Linked DNA regions of Homo sapiens. The protein of the gene in region 4 purifies or fractionates together with the protein of the main gene of each other region. This does not show direct contact. Each region holds a gene or a part of one and is shown on either strand. Other genes may lie near its edges.

Region 1 (3,621 bases), on a different chromosome or scaffold from region 4:
ACTTGACCTTTAACAATTTGCTTGATTTGATAATTTTAGTGCCACAGCATAAGTATACAATGAGATAATACCTATAACAATTATAGTTCCTAAGCATATATACAGTGTGACTATGCTGTTCCTTAACTGTTAGTTTGAGGCAACTAGGATACAAAGATTATAATGAAGATAGTGATGATAGCAAGAAATTACAGATTGCTTACTATATGCATTTTATATATATTAACTCAATATGACTCACTTAAGTAGGATGACTATTATCTTAGTTCACTGAATATGGAAGTGGCAATGGTCATTTGAGACTTTATTCTCAGTAACATCCTTGTTTTCATTTGGATCTGACTCAAAGTTTGTTCTGTCTCAGGCTGTAAAATCAAATTACATAAATATAGGGAAGAACACAGAATAAGTAGGTGCCATGGAGCTTTCCTAACTTGACTTACAAGACAAATGAGGAGACTATGGAGATGAAAAACCAAAAGATACAAAAGCATGACTTAGAAAACTGAACTAAATATTTAAATTTTAAAATGTGTCACACTTAATTCCATAGTAAGCATTACATGAACTGACATTTAAATTCACCTTTTTGTTGATATTTTCTGCCATCCATGGGCTACCAAAATACAGAACCCCATGCTGGGAACATATAATACTCGCTCGGCAACAACAAATCCAACTGGAAAAAAAAGGTTCGATGCAGGAATAAATGGTAATGCCATTAAACAAAGCGCCTACAAAAAAAAAAAGAAGATTTAATAATTTATAATAAATTTAAAATAATTTATAATAAATTAAGAAATATATGGGCATCTGATACTTGAATCCAAATATTTTATCATTTAACCTGGATAGTGTACTGCTAAACTATTTTTAATAATACTGTGAAGAATATTAATTTAAACATAAAGAAGGCAACTTAGACATTAACAAACATCAGGATGTACGTAAGCAAGGTGAAATGGAAATCTTGAATTCTAAAAGTTAAAATTAGAGGATATCTATGAACTTTGAAAACAAGATTTCTAGGTGTGTTTGGGAGTGATTACTCCTTGAAATTAAAATCTAAACCATTACAGCATTTTAAATTTGAGAAGCATAATTAGCTATATCTCACTGGTTTTCTGTAAAGAATATGCTTGCATAGTAAAATATAAAAACTTTAATAAATGTAAATATTCACATCTTTAAGCAAAAATTAAACAATAAAGGTTCATCCAGTTAAATAGTGGAAGTACTTTTTGAAATTCTATCTAAAATAACACACTCAAACAATCATAAGAAAACAACCCAATTTAAAAAATGGGCAAAGTAGCTAAATAGATATTCCTCAGAAGACAACATGCCAATGGCCATCAAGTATATAAATGTTCAACATCACTATCATTAAGGAAGTGAAAATTAAAACCACAATGAGATGTCATCGCACACCTGTAAGAATGGCTATTATCAAAAAGTCAAAAGATAACAAATGTTGGCAAGAACGTAAAGGAAACACTTGCACACTGTTGGTGGGATGTAAATTAGCATTGCCATTAAGCAAACAGTAGGAAGGCTTCTCAAAAAATTAAAAATAGAACTACCATGTGACCCAGCATCCTCACTACTGGGTATAGATCCAAAGGAAATGAAGTCAGTATGTTGAAGAGAGATCTGACCTCCCCTGTTCATTGCAGCATTATTCAATTTACAATAGCCAAGATATGGGAACAACCTAAGTATCCATCAACAGATTACTGGATGAAAAAAATGTGGTACATATACACTTTAGAATACTATTTAGCCTTAAAACAGAAGGAAATCCTGTCATTTCTGACATGGATAAACCCGGAGGACACCATGTTAAGAGAAATAAGCCAGCCACAGAAAGACAAACAACGCATGATCTCACTTGTATGTAGAATTTGTAAAAGTTGAACTCACAGAAGTACAGTACATGGTGGTCACCAGGGTTGGAGGGAGAAGGTTGGGGAGAGGTTGGTCAAAAGGCATAAAACTTCAGTTAGGAGGAATACAAATTAAATAAATAAAAATTTTACACATCTAACTTATGTGCGTGTGGTAAAAATAAGATGATAATGAAATATGCTAATAGGTTTTTCAACAAAACAAAACCACAAATGCTGATTAAAAAAAAGCTAAACATGTCAGTTTTTACAACTTTACTACTTTAAGAAACCACATGATATTGGAAACTGAGGGAATGAAATCAGGTGTCGTTCAGACAAGATAGCAGACTACTGTACCTTAGCATTACTTCACATAACATCCTGAAAGGTTAAATGTATTTAACTAGAAGCTTAGTGTATGCATAAAAATAAAACTGCCCCCCTTTAAATCAACAGTCTTTCATTCTACAAGAATTTCTAAAATTATTAATATAACACTGAACATTGAAATGAAACATCATAAAAATGTTTAGATTTCTTACCATTTTGAAAATGGGATGACATGTGGTTTCCACATTATACACCCATAAAAAACTAGCACATAAATAGCTTGTGAAGGAAATAAGTTTGGTCGTTATTAGGAAATCTGTTTCTATGGACATCTGCTTCCATATTTTGTTACCCCGATTTGTTTTACAGTACTTAATTGAATAAACAAGTTAAACCTTTAGCTTCACAAGTTTGAGACTCTTCTAATGGGCTAAGGTGAAAGAATGTCCTTTTTTTCTATTTGACTTAATTTGTGAAATATAGAGGTGTATACATTGAAAAGAATACTCTCCACAAATGTTCACACATTAATGATTTGTAATAAGGCAACACTGAATCTGAGGAAAATCACTACCATCAAACTGGTCACCATCATACCAATTTATAGGTCTGACACTTCAGTTTTTTTAAATCAAAAAGGTAAGAATAACTAAGAGTGCATAGAATTCACTTTCCATTTCCCAGAGATGCTTGACAAAAATAATCAGCAAAAAATGTGAAACAGATAAAGAAAAGTTCCTGAATATGTATGTAGTTCATTGAAAAAAAAATTATACCTATTAATTCATGGCCGCCCCAAGGCAATTTCACTTGAGGGAATTAAGTGTTAAATTCACTCAAAAGTGTATTGTAGACTGATGCATAAACTATACAAAACAAAAAAAATCTCTCAGGAAAAATCTATAGGTTCTGGGATAAGAAATGTCTCTAATGATTAACTTATTCACAGGTCCTAATATGCTCTCTAATAATGTATGCCAACCTAGTTAACTATCACTCTCTTGTAATTTCCTTCTTCCAGTAGCATAAACTGTCCTTAAATGTTAGGATATTAGTAGAAAGAGCAAAGAGTTCGAGACAAATCTGCTTTACTTCTCATTTCCTACATACGGCAAACCACTCAGTCACCTCCAGAGTCTTTCTTTCTTTTTTTCTTCTTCCTTTTTTTTTTTTTCTGACAGGGTCTTGTCTGTCATCCAGGATAGAGTATAGTGGCATGATCATAGTCTACTGCATTCTTGAACTCTTGGGCTCAAGCAATCCTCCTGCCTCAGCCTCCCAAACACCTAGGACTACAGGTATGCACTACCATGCCTGGCTAATTTAAAAATTTTTTTTAGAGGTGGGATCTCACTGTCTTGCCCAGGTTTGTCCCAAACTCCTGGCCTCCAGTGATCTTCCC
Region 2 (3,621 bases), on a different chromosome or scaffold from region 4:
CCCATTGCTTTTCTTTGTTGGGTGGGCTTTTATGGGGAAATGGATCTGGGGAGAAAGTAGGAGGCTATTTGCTTTGAGAATCTGTGTTTTGTGACCTAAGAATAATCCACACAGTGCTCTCTGGCACTGTTATGTTGCTTTGTATTATATTTGTATTTTATATTGTTTTTATCTTGTATTGAACTAAGGATAGAACCTCTGACAAACGCTAGGGAATCACAGAGCGCTGGGGGTTTGTTAAAAAGAATGTTGGGGCCGGGTGCAGTGGCTCGCGCCTGTAATCCCAGCACTTTGGGAGGCCTAGGCAGGAGGATCACTTGAGTCCAAGAGTTTGAGACCAGCCTGGGCAACATGGAGAAACTCTACAAAAATTACAGGAATTAGCTGGACGTTGTAGTGTGTGCCTGTGTTCCCAGCTTCCTGGGAAGCAGAGGCAGGAGGATCACTTGAGGCCAGTAGTTTGAGGCTACAGTGAGCTGTGATCCAACAACTGCACTCCACCCGGGGTGACAGAGTGAAACCCTGTCTCAAAAAAGAAAAAGTATGTTGATGTTGATGTTGGTAAGGAGGATCATGAACGTTTCATGTGTAATGGTGTTCCTCCACTATTCACCTGGGGGAGGTGGCTCTGAAGCAGCAGGCACAAGGAGAATGGGTGCCTATGAGTGGCAAAGAAAAGAGGGGCAATCCCGACTCCTAAGTAACGGTCAAGACATCCAGCTCAGGCCGGGCGCAGTGGCTCATGCCTGTAATCCCAGAACTTTGGGAGGCCGAGGCGGGCGGATCACTTGAGTTCAGGAGTTTGAAATCAGCCTGGCCAACATGGCAAAACCCCATCTCTACTAAAAATACAAACATTAGCCGGGCGTGGTGGTGGGCACCTGCAATCCCAGCTACTCAGGAGGCTGAGGCAGGAGAATCGCTTGAACCCGGGAGGCGGAGGTTGCAGTGAGCTGAGATCACACCACTGCACTCCAGCTGGGGCGGCAGAGTGAGACTGTCTCAGAAAAAAAAAAAAAAAAAGACACCCAGCTCAACCCAGCTGCTGGTCTGCTGTCCTGGAAGGCCATACCTGTGCGACTGGCACAAGGACAAAGAGAATGACCGCATGATGTGTGATCATGAGGCGGTTTCGACTTAGGAAGTTTCGAAGAGTGAGGGAGGGCGCACGGTTCTGGTCTCTGGTTCGGCACCATTCACAGAGGTACATGGCGTACGAGTCATAGATCATGTATGGAATCAGAAACCACACATATTCCCGGGCAAGCCAGTGCCTGAAAGAAAGCATATGAATGGCCCGTGAAATCATTGTGGATATCCATTATGAAGGCTCACAGCCAAGCTTGGTGCTTGATCAGCTATTATTATTCCAAATACTTTACAATAAAGATGTTGAAACTGATAAACAGGGAGAGTAGACCACTTGCTCTCAGTTTCAGGGCCAATTCGTGAGTGTCAAAGGCAAAAAGCAGGCATTCACTCAGCCCTGCCTGTTGAAGCAGCTTGCTGTCACTACTTGCCTGACTTAGCTACTAATTTGTAGTAGATGTTCTGGCATTTTGTGATAAAACTGATTTTGATATAGATAGATATACAAATGATTCAACGGCCCCACCAAGAAGCTGGTTTGGAAAGTGTCCCAAATCACAAATCCAACATTTCTAGTTTAACTCCTTAGCTGCTCAACAGTTGGGGGTTTTACTAACTTAAATCCTGGAACCTGTGAGTTTTCTCTTGTCTGCATGCAACCCCACTCTATGGAGTTTCTGGGAGGCAACCCTGGCCATTTTCTTTACAATTCTAGAGCTGGCCGGGTTCGGTGGCTCACACCTGTAATCTCAGCACTTTGGGAGGCTGAGGCGGGTGGATCACTTGAGGTCAGGAGTTCAAGATCAGCCTGGCCAACATGGCGAAACCCCGTCTCTACTAAAAATACAAAAATTAGTCAGATGTGGTGGCGCACACCTGTAGTCCCAGCTACTTGGGAGGCTGAGGCAGGAGAATCACTTGAACCCGGGAGGCGGAGGTTGCAGTGAGCCGATATTGCGCCACTGCACTCCAGCCTGGGCGACAGAGTGAGATTCCATCTAAAAAAAACAAAAACAAAAAAACCCAAAAAGCAATTCTAGAGATAATCTCAATTCCATTAAGAAAAACAGGTCTGGAGGCTGGGCGTGGTGGCTCACACCTGTAATCCCAGCACTTTGGGAGGCCAAGGCAGGTGAATCACAAGGTCAGCAGTTCGATACTCGCCTTATCAACATTGTGAAACCCCGTTTCTACTAAAAATACAAAAATTAGCTGGGCATGGTGGTGTGCACCTGTACTCCCAGCTACTTGGGAGGCTGAGGCAGGAGAATCGATTGAATCTGGGAGGCAGAGGTTGCAGTGAGCCGAGATCGCGCCACTGCACTCCAGCCTGGGCAAAAGAGTGAGACTCCGTCTCAAAAAACACACAAAACACAACAAAAAAAAGCAGGTCTGGAAATGAGCCTGGAGCTCAAGGGCCACATTACAGCGGTTAGGTACCAGGAGAGAGGCTAGGTCAAAAGACAGTTTTCCCATTTACTTATCCAAAGGGGCTGAATCAGTATTTGCTGAATGGAAATCATAGTTGATCACCGTCCTAGAGCAGATTAGAAGGGAAGCCTCTACAATTCATACAATGTGGTTCCCAGTGATAAGCATTCCACAGATGTTTTCTGTGAAGAAACATCTAAATTGAAATCATGTACTATTTGAGGATTCCATTCACATGGTCAGCAAACGTTTGATGCGCATCCACGTATTAGGTAGAAAACCATTTCGTTTTATGGTTCTCAAACTACCTGAACATCAGAATCACCTGCAGTGCTTGTTAAGCGCTCCAGTCCCCAGAGATTCTAAATTGTAAGCCGAGGGCCCTGAAATCTGTATTAACTTTGTCTCTGATTTCGGACGCAGCCAGTCCGCTGAACTGCAACACTGGAAATACAGTCTACGGAGGCGCCATCTGAATTTGTGCTCTTGAGCAACTCCACACTTACCACGGCGTAAATAATGAATAAACAAATAAGGCAAGCAAGTAATGGCAAGTATAACACACTTGTAGGTGAATTCATTAGCCAGGTTCCTTTTTTTTTTTTTTTTTTTTGGTTTTGGTTTTTGAGACAAAATCTTGCTCTGTCGCCCAGGCTGGATGTAGTGGCGCGATCTCAGCTCACTGCAACCTCTGACTCGTGGGTTCAAACGATTCTCCTGCCGCAGCCTCCCGAGTAGCTGGGATTACAGGTACCTGCCGCCACGTCCGGCTATTTTCTTTTTTTTTTTCTTTTTAAGTAGCGATGGGGGTTTCACCATGTTGGCCAGACTGGTCTCAAGCTCCTGACCTCAAGTGATCCGCCCACCTCGGCCTCCCAAAGTGTTGGGATTACAGGCAGGAGCCACCGCACCCGACCTAGCTAGGTTTCTTTTGGCCAAAAAGATGCCATACTTATTCCAATGCCCATCTATGGTCTCAGGTGCTTTCTTCAAGCAATTTCAAGTAAAATACCTATAAACAGCTACTAAAATTTAGCTGAAATATAACTGGCCTCTCCCCTTGAAGGGAACCTAGGGTTTTCATGTTTTCACCAATTCAGA
Region 3 (3,621 bases), on a different chromosome or scaffold from region 4:
CCCAGAGCCAGGCTTCCAGGGGCCACCAGGGCCTGAGGAATACCCTTTGCCACTCTAAGGCCAAGTGCAGCACCACAAGGGGCCTGGAGCACCGGCCCTCCAGAAGAGGGCAGGGCAGGGCAGGGGTGGCAGGTACCATGATGAGGCGCTGTGCCAGGCGGGTGCGGGCCAGGAAGTAGACAACACGCAGCCTCTTGGGGAGCCGCAGGTTTCGGAAGGAAGACGGCTGCAACGTGATGGTGTGGGGTGTGGACGGCCTCACAGCCAGCTGCCGCTCGTAGCGCGTTGGCTGTCCCACTGGCTTGGCTGAGGGCAGGCAGGCCTCAGGGGGCAGTCGCTTGTTCAGGTCTGCTAGCTGTTGGGGGCACAGTGGTCAGGGCCTGAGTCCACCATCCAGAGGCTGCTCGCACAGGACCGCTGTCCTGCCCGAGGTCTACACCCTTCTCACCCAGGACTCCCTCAGTACAGCCAGGGCTGAGGAGGCGGGCAGGGCAGGGCTCAGCCCACTCCTACCTCCATCCGGCGAATGTCAATGGACAGGACAGTGGTGAAAAACAGCATCTGAAGGAAGAAGTCAGACACCAGCCCCACGACAGCAAAGAGACAGAACTCCTGGAATCAGAGCACATGGGGATGGGGGGGTGCCGTGACCTCACTGTCCCAGCCCAAGAGGAGCAGTACCCGGACTGCAGCCACCTCATAACCGGCAGGGCAGCAGCAGGCAGGGCACAGCAGAGATGAGAGATGCTGGTTGGTCCTCAGCTCACATACCAGCAGCAGCTCACCCCGTCTCCACCAGGGGGCAGAAGAAACCCTCACACTTTCTTCAGAAAGGGCTGAAAGGGAAGGGGAAGTACCTTCCCTGAATCTTCCGGTCCCTCTAGAGGGGACTGAAGGCCTGATCCAACCCGGAAACCTCTAAGCCCCACCAGCCTGCTCCCCAAAAAGTCCTTCCCCACTGAGCCCCCGCCCTGCTCATGCATCACCAACCCAGCTAGAGCCCAGGCCTGATTCAGGGGCTCTCAGAAAGGTTCCCAGCCAGCAACTGCCCCGGAACAATGAAGAGAGAGAGAGAGGGATTAATTCTCTAAAACTGAAAAAGGGTGAGCTCTCTGCTCCCCAAGCTCTGTCAGCAGACAAAATTTTCTGAGATGTCGGTGTTGAGACCTCTAGCACATCACCACAGTGCTACTCCGATCTGGGGTAAGACCATGGAGTGCAGATAGTGGCACAGTGGTTGTCTCAGCTCTAACGTCCCAAGACTGTACCCTATCCTGCAGATACTACTGTTTTTCCAGGAGAAGCAGCCCACAGCCCATCTGTTCTCTGCTCACCCCCATCCCTCAGCTGGCCTGCCAGCCCTGGGGGAAAGACGGGCGAGAAAAGATGGCATCCTCCCCTTCCTGCAACTCCTTCTGGAATGGCTGGCATCAGTCTGGGGTTCCAGCTCAGTGCAGGGCCACCTCCACCTCTGCTCACAGCCCACAGCTGAGTGAGGGCACTTTGCCAAGAGCAGGGTCACTCTGGGCAATGGGTGGTGGCCCTCCCACTGGTCAGGCCAGGCAAGGCCATGCGTCTGGCGACTGCGGCACAGGCCAGGGCCAAGGGAGGAGACCGGAGGAAGGGTCTAGGAACCCCACGGTGCTTCTCCCTCAAAAATGGGAAACAGGTGTGACAAACTGCACAGCCAGTCCCCAGCTCCTGCCATGCCCTTGCAGCCTCCTCCTGCCACTTGGCTGAAAGGGAAGCAGGCAGGGAGGGGTAGGAAGACAGGGTCAAGGGCAGAGTCTGCCTGGCTAGGTGCTCAATCTGGGAACCCAGCCAGGGTTTGCTGAGCACTTCTGAGCCAGGCATGCCAGGGGCCATCTGGGTGCTGTAGTGATCTGCTTGCCAGGCAAAGAGGTCCCACCTCAGAAGCAAGGATGCCTGTGCTGAAGAGGGGAGCACCCTGCCCATGGCTGCACAGCTGGGGAGCACAGCAGTTGCTTCCATGCTCATCCAGGTGGCAGGCCTTGGGGCCTTACCTGGATGGCGGGCACTAGGGTGAAGTAGCCGATGAGGATGATGCCCAGCTCCGTGGCCATGTTCTTCATGATGGACCAGCTCTCGCTGCTTAGGCCTGCAGAGGGCAGCAACAGGGCACAGGGCAACACATGGCCACTCTGCGACATGACTCACACAACCTCATGGGCCTCGGAGTGGCAGAGGCATGGCAAGGCCCCCCAGCCCTTTGAAGGAGCCATTCCACCAAAGCACCCCAACCCTCAGGGTCCTGCTAATGCCCAGACTTTAAGGGGCCATCACCACCACACAGCTGCTACGGGGAACGGGTGTTCACAGCCTGGAGGGTGCAGAGGAGAGCTATAATCATCAAAAGAGGGAAGAAGCAGAGTGTGGAGATGAGAAAATCCACAAGGAAAGCCAAGTGCCACCCACAACAACCACATCCAACCTCCGCATGTGGTTCTTGTCTGGTCTGCACGGGCCAGCATGACAGTGTGCCCATCAACCACATGGCAGAAGCACTCGGCGGGTAGAGGACCTGGCTGCGTTCTTCCTCAAGCCCCTTCCTGTAGTGAGCCCTGATCCCACGCTATCACACTGTCGCATGTCTAAGGCTCTGTGCTCTTACTGGGTAAGGACAATTTCGCCCCATCTCTTCCTAACTCCATATCCAGCACAGGGCCTGGCTTATCACAGAGGCTCACAGAGGTCTGGATGAATGGACGGCTGCCTACAGCCCCATTCCTCACAGACATGGGGTGACGAGGAAGAAGAGGCTCAAGTGACCAGGCCTCCAAGGCCAGGCTCTCCCTTTTCTCATTTTCCCTAGAACCCCAGATCCCCAGTTTCTACCAGCAGGGCCAGAGGGAGCTTTTCTGGCAGCCGTGAAGGCAGCGTCTCTGAAATGGCCAGCCCCCGGGGCTTGGGCCTAGTGTGCTGGAGTGAGGCAGTAAGAGAAAATACTAGGCGCTAAACTCCCCAGACAGAAAGCCACCACCAAACACAAGCCCCACCCACACTGAAGTGCAGTGGTGTGATCACGGCTCACTGCAGCTTTGACCTCCCAGGCTCAAGCAATCCTCCCACCTCAGCCTCTTGAGTAGGTGGGACCACAGGTGCATGCCAATATGCCCTGCTAATTTTTCTATCTTTTGTAGACATGGGGTTTCACCATGTTGCCCAGGCTGGTCTTGAACTCCTGGGCTCAAGTGATCCACCTGCCTCAGCCTCCCAAAGTGCTGGGATTACAGGTGTGAGCCATGGCACCCAGCCTGGTTTACTTTCTTACTGACACATGAACCAGGACGAAGTACAGTCCAATGGCCCCATGGCTCCCCAGGGCACACACTCAAGAGCTGCCAGGGCCCAGTGGCCCACTGCATATTATGCCGGAGGCAAGAGCAAGGGACATTTCAAGGGCTCTGTTTGCTCACAGAGCGTTAACAGCAAGAGGAACAGGCCCCATTCCAGCCCCTCCTGCAGCCCTCTGCCCAACTCTCCCACTGCGTTACCTTGGGCGATCCGCAGCTTCACCTCCAGGTCTACCGGGGTTGAGACCACAGACTTGGTGAGCACCAACACATTCTCTAACCCAATAACCACCACAAGGTAGGGGAA
Region 4 (2,334 bases):
CTCAGGCTTTCTTACCACTTTTCTTGTGCCCACCCAGGGTTGACAATGTGAGATGATTATAGTCTGCCCTCTGTGTTCCCAAGTACCCTGTCTGCTTCATAAACACACATTCCAACAAACACATTAATTATCACCAGCTGTGGCTCTCACCAGAGGCATATTGAGTCAGTTACTCACCTATGGTCTCCACAATCTCCGCCTGGAGGTGGGGCTCCAGGTGTTCCATCGTAATTTCTTCCCGGGACCATCCAGCCTTGAGCAACTTTAGGACCACCTCATTGATTATATCGCCCCTGAGATTACTGAAAGAGACAAGAGCTTGTTAACCCATTTGTTTATATTTAGCTTCCATATATGTTATCTCACCGCTGAAACCAATGCATTAGTGCCTGGAAGAATAGAGGCTGAGGGGCGTGGACCTTCTCTCTCTTCCAGGAGACCTTGTCACAACCTCACAACCCAAAGGTCTGCACAGAAAAGACACTGTCCAGTTTTGCCACCCATTCTCTCTTGTTCCCTCTTGACACACACTTACTGAGACTGTGCTAAGTGCAGGGAGCATGAAAAGATGGTAAGATATGGTTCTTCTGTGTGGTCTGAGGGGCATCCGTGTATTCGGTTCCAGGACAGTGTGGCAAGCGCTAATGGAGGAGTGACTGAGTTCTAAGGAGAAGGCTTCAGAGGGAGGATGAGGCTTCTGAGCAAATAAAGACCAAGTAGTGATCATCAGACACTTGGCAAGGAAGGGAAGTGTCTAGGCCTGGGTGCGCCAGAGGAGCACAGGCATGAAAGGCTGGCTAAGGTGAGGAGGGCTTTGTCTGCCATTTGCATGGACTTGAGCTTATGGATCATGGAGAAGGGATGGAAAGGAGGATTTAAGAATTAGTTATGGAGGCACAATTGAAAAACCCTGTAACTGATGGATGTGAGAAGTGAAAGGAGGTCATCAAAGAACAAGCGTTAGCCTCAAGCTGCTTGCTGTCCCCCTTAACAGAGGTGGAACACGGAAAGGTGGAGATGAAAGTTTGGTTTTACACACGTTTGAGTGTTTTTTGCTTGCCTGTGATCTCTCTCAGGTTGTGATATCACTGGGCAACTGGAATTACGGGTCTGAAGCACAGAAAGTGATTTGGGTTAGAGATAGGAGGGAGAAAGGGGATAAGGAGAGAAGATGCAACCGTAGAGCCACCAGCAGGGAAGCTGGGACAGAGGTAGTGGAGACTTGGCCTTCCTCCGCCCTCCACGGCCCAGGCATACTTCTCCCCCACCTCACTGCACTCTCCTCCCCTCCCTGGGCTGCAGCCTCAGCCAGCTCCACCAGCTCCTTAAACCAAGTCCTTGCCCAGCTCCACATCAATGCACTTGCACTTCCCCGTGCTTTCTCTCTTTTTGGAGACAGTCTCATTCTGTCACCCAGATTGGAGTACAGTGGCGTGATTTTGGCTCACTGCAGCCTCCACCTCCCCAGGCTCAGCTGATCCTCTCACCTCAGCCTCCTAAGTAGCTGAGACTGCAGGTACATGCCACCCTACCCAGCTATTTTTTTTTTTCTTGAGACAGAGTTTCACTCTTGTTGCCCAGGCTGGAGTGCAGTGGCGTGATCTCAGCTCACAGCAGCCTCTGCCTCCCGGATTCAAGAGATTCTCCTGCCTCAGCCTCCCAAGTAGCTGGGATTACAGGCACATGCCACAATGCCCAGCTAATTTTTTTAGTAGAGACAGGGTTTCACCATGTTGGCCAGGCTGGTCTCAAACTCCTGACCTCAGCTGATCTGCCCGCCTCCCAAAGTGCTAGGATGACAGGTGTGCCCGGCCCTATTTTTAAAATTTTTTTGTAGAGACGAGGTCTCACTATGTTCCCTAGGCTGGTCTCAAACTCCTAGGCTCAAGTGATTCTCCCACCTCAGTCTCCCAAAGTGTTGGGATGACAGGCATGAGCCACTAGGCCTAGCCTCCCTTGCATTTTCCTCAGGTCCAGCAGAATGAGGGAGGGTAAAGGACAGGGAAGGCAGGTGGCAGGTTAAGGAGTGGGGAACCAGTATCTCCATCTCTTTCCCTCCTTACCCAGCTCTGAAAGCCCCCATGACACCTACCAGTATATTAGCTCACATCTTTGCTCATTTAGCCTGTGACCACACCCTGTTGACTAGGCTCCATGGGGGCTGCTGGGAAATGAGGGGAGCTGTGTGGTTCTCTCCCTCCCTGCCTCCACCATTGCGTAGAGGCTAAGGCTGGGCAGGCGTCCTTCCCTGCCACGCAGGTTAAGCCCGGACAGCCAAGTTGTCTAGCTAGGTGCCTCATTGTAGGGGGAGGTGCTAATGTGTCTTTCACTGCC

The links. Proteins that work in one complex are often made in the same cells at the same time.
Region 1: the proteins of TOR3A (region 4) and TMTC3 purify together in Homo sapiens (co-immunoprecipitation; one large-scale study listed by IntAct). This does not show direct contact.
Region 2: the proteins of TOR3A (region 4) and TLCD3A purify together in Homo sapiens (affinity purification with mass spectrometry; one large-scale study listed by BioGRID and IntAct). This does not show direct contact.
Region 3: the proteins of TOR3A (region 4) and SCAP purify together in Homo sapiens (co-immunoprecipitation; one large-scale study listed by IntAct). This does not show direct contact.

The regions. Positions count from the first base shown.
Region 1 is NC_000012.12:88,169,710-88,173,330, reverse strand, and holds part of TMTC3 (protein O-mannosyl-transferase TMTC3), read right to left. Parts: intron 735-3,621; coding exon 586-734; intron 366-585; exon of another isoform or gene 242-365; intron 1-241. UniProt on the Homo sapiens protein: Transfers mannosyl residues to the hydroxyl group of serine or threonine residues.
Region 2 is NC_000017.11:735,499-739,119, reverse strand, and holds part of TLCD3A (TLC domain-containing protein 3A), read right to left. Parts: intron 1,275-3,621; coding exon 1,073-1,274; intron 1-1,072.
Region 3 is NC_000003.12:47,420,418-47,424,038, forward strand, and holds part of SCAP (sterol regulatory element-binding protein cleavage-activating protein), read right to left. Parts: coding exon 3,516-3,621; intron 2,120-3,515; coding exon 2,025-2,119; intron 613-2,024; coding exon 514-612; intron 356-513; coding exon 137-355; intron 1-136. UniProt on the Homo sapiens protein: Escort protein required for cholesterol as well as lipid homeostasis.
Region 4 is NC_000001.11:179,092,061-179,094,394, reverse strand, and holds part of TOR3A (torsin-3A precursor), read right to left. Parts: intron 303-2,334; coding exon 178-302; intron 1-177.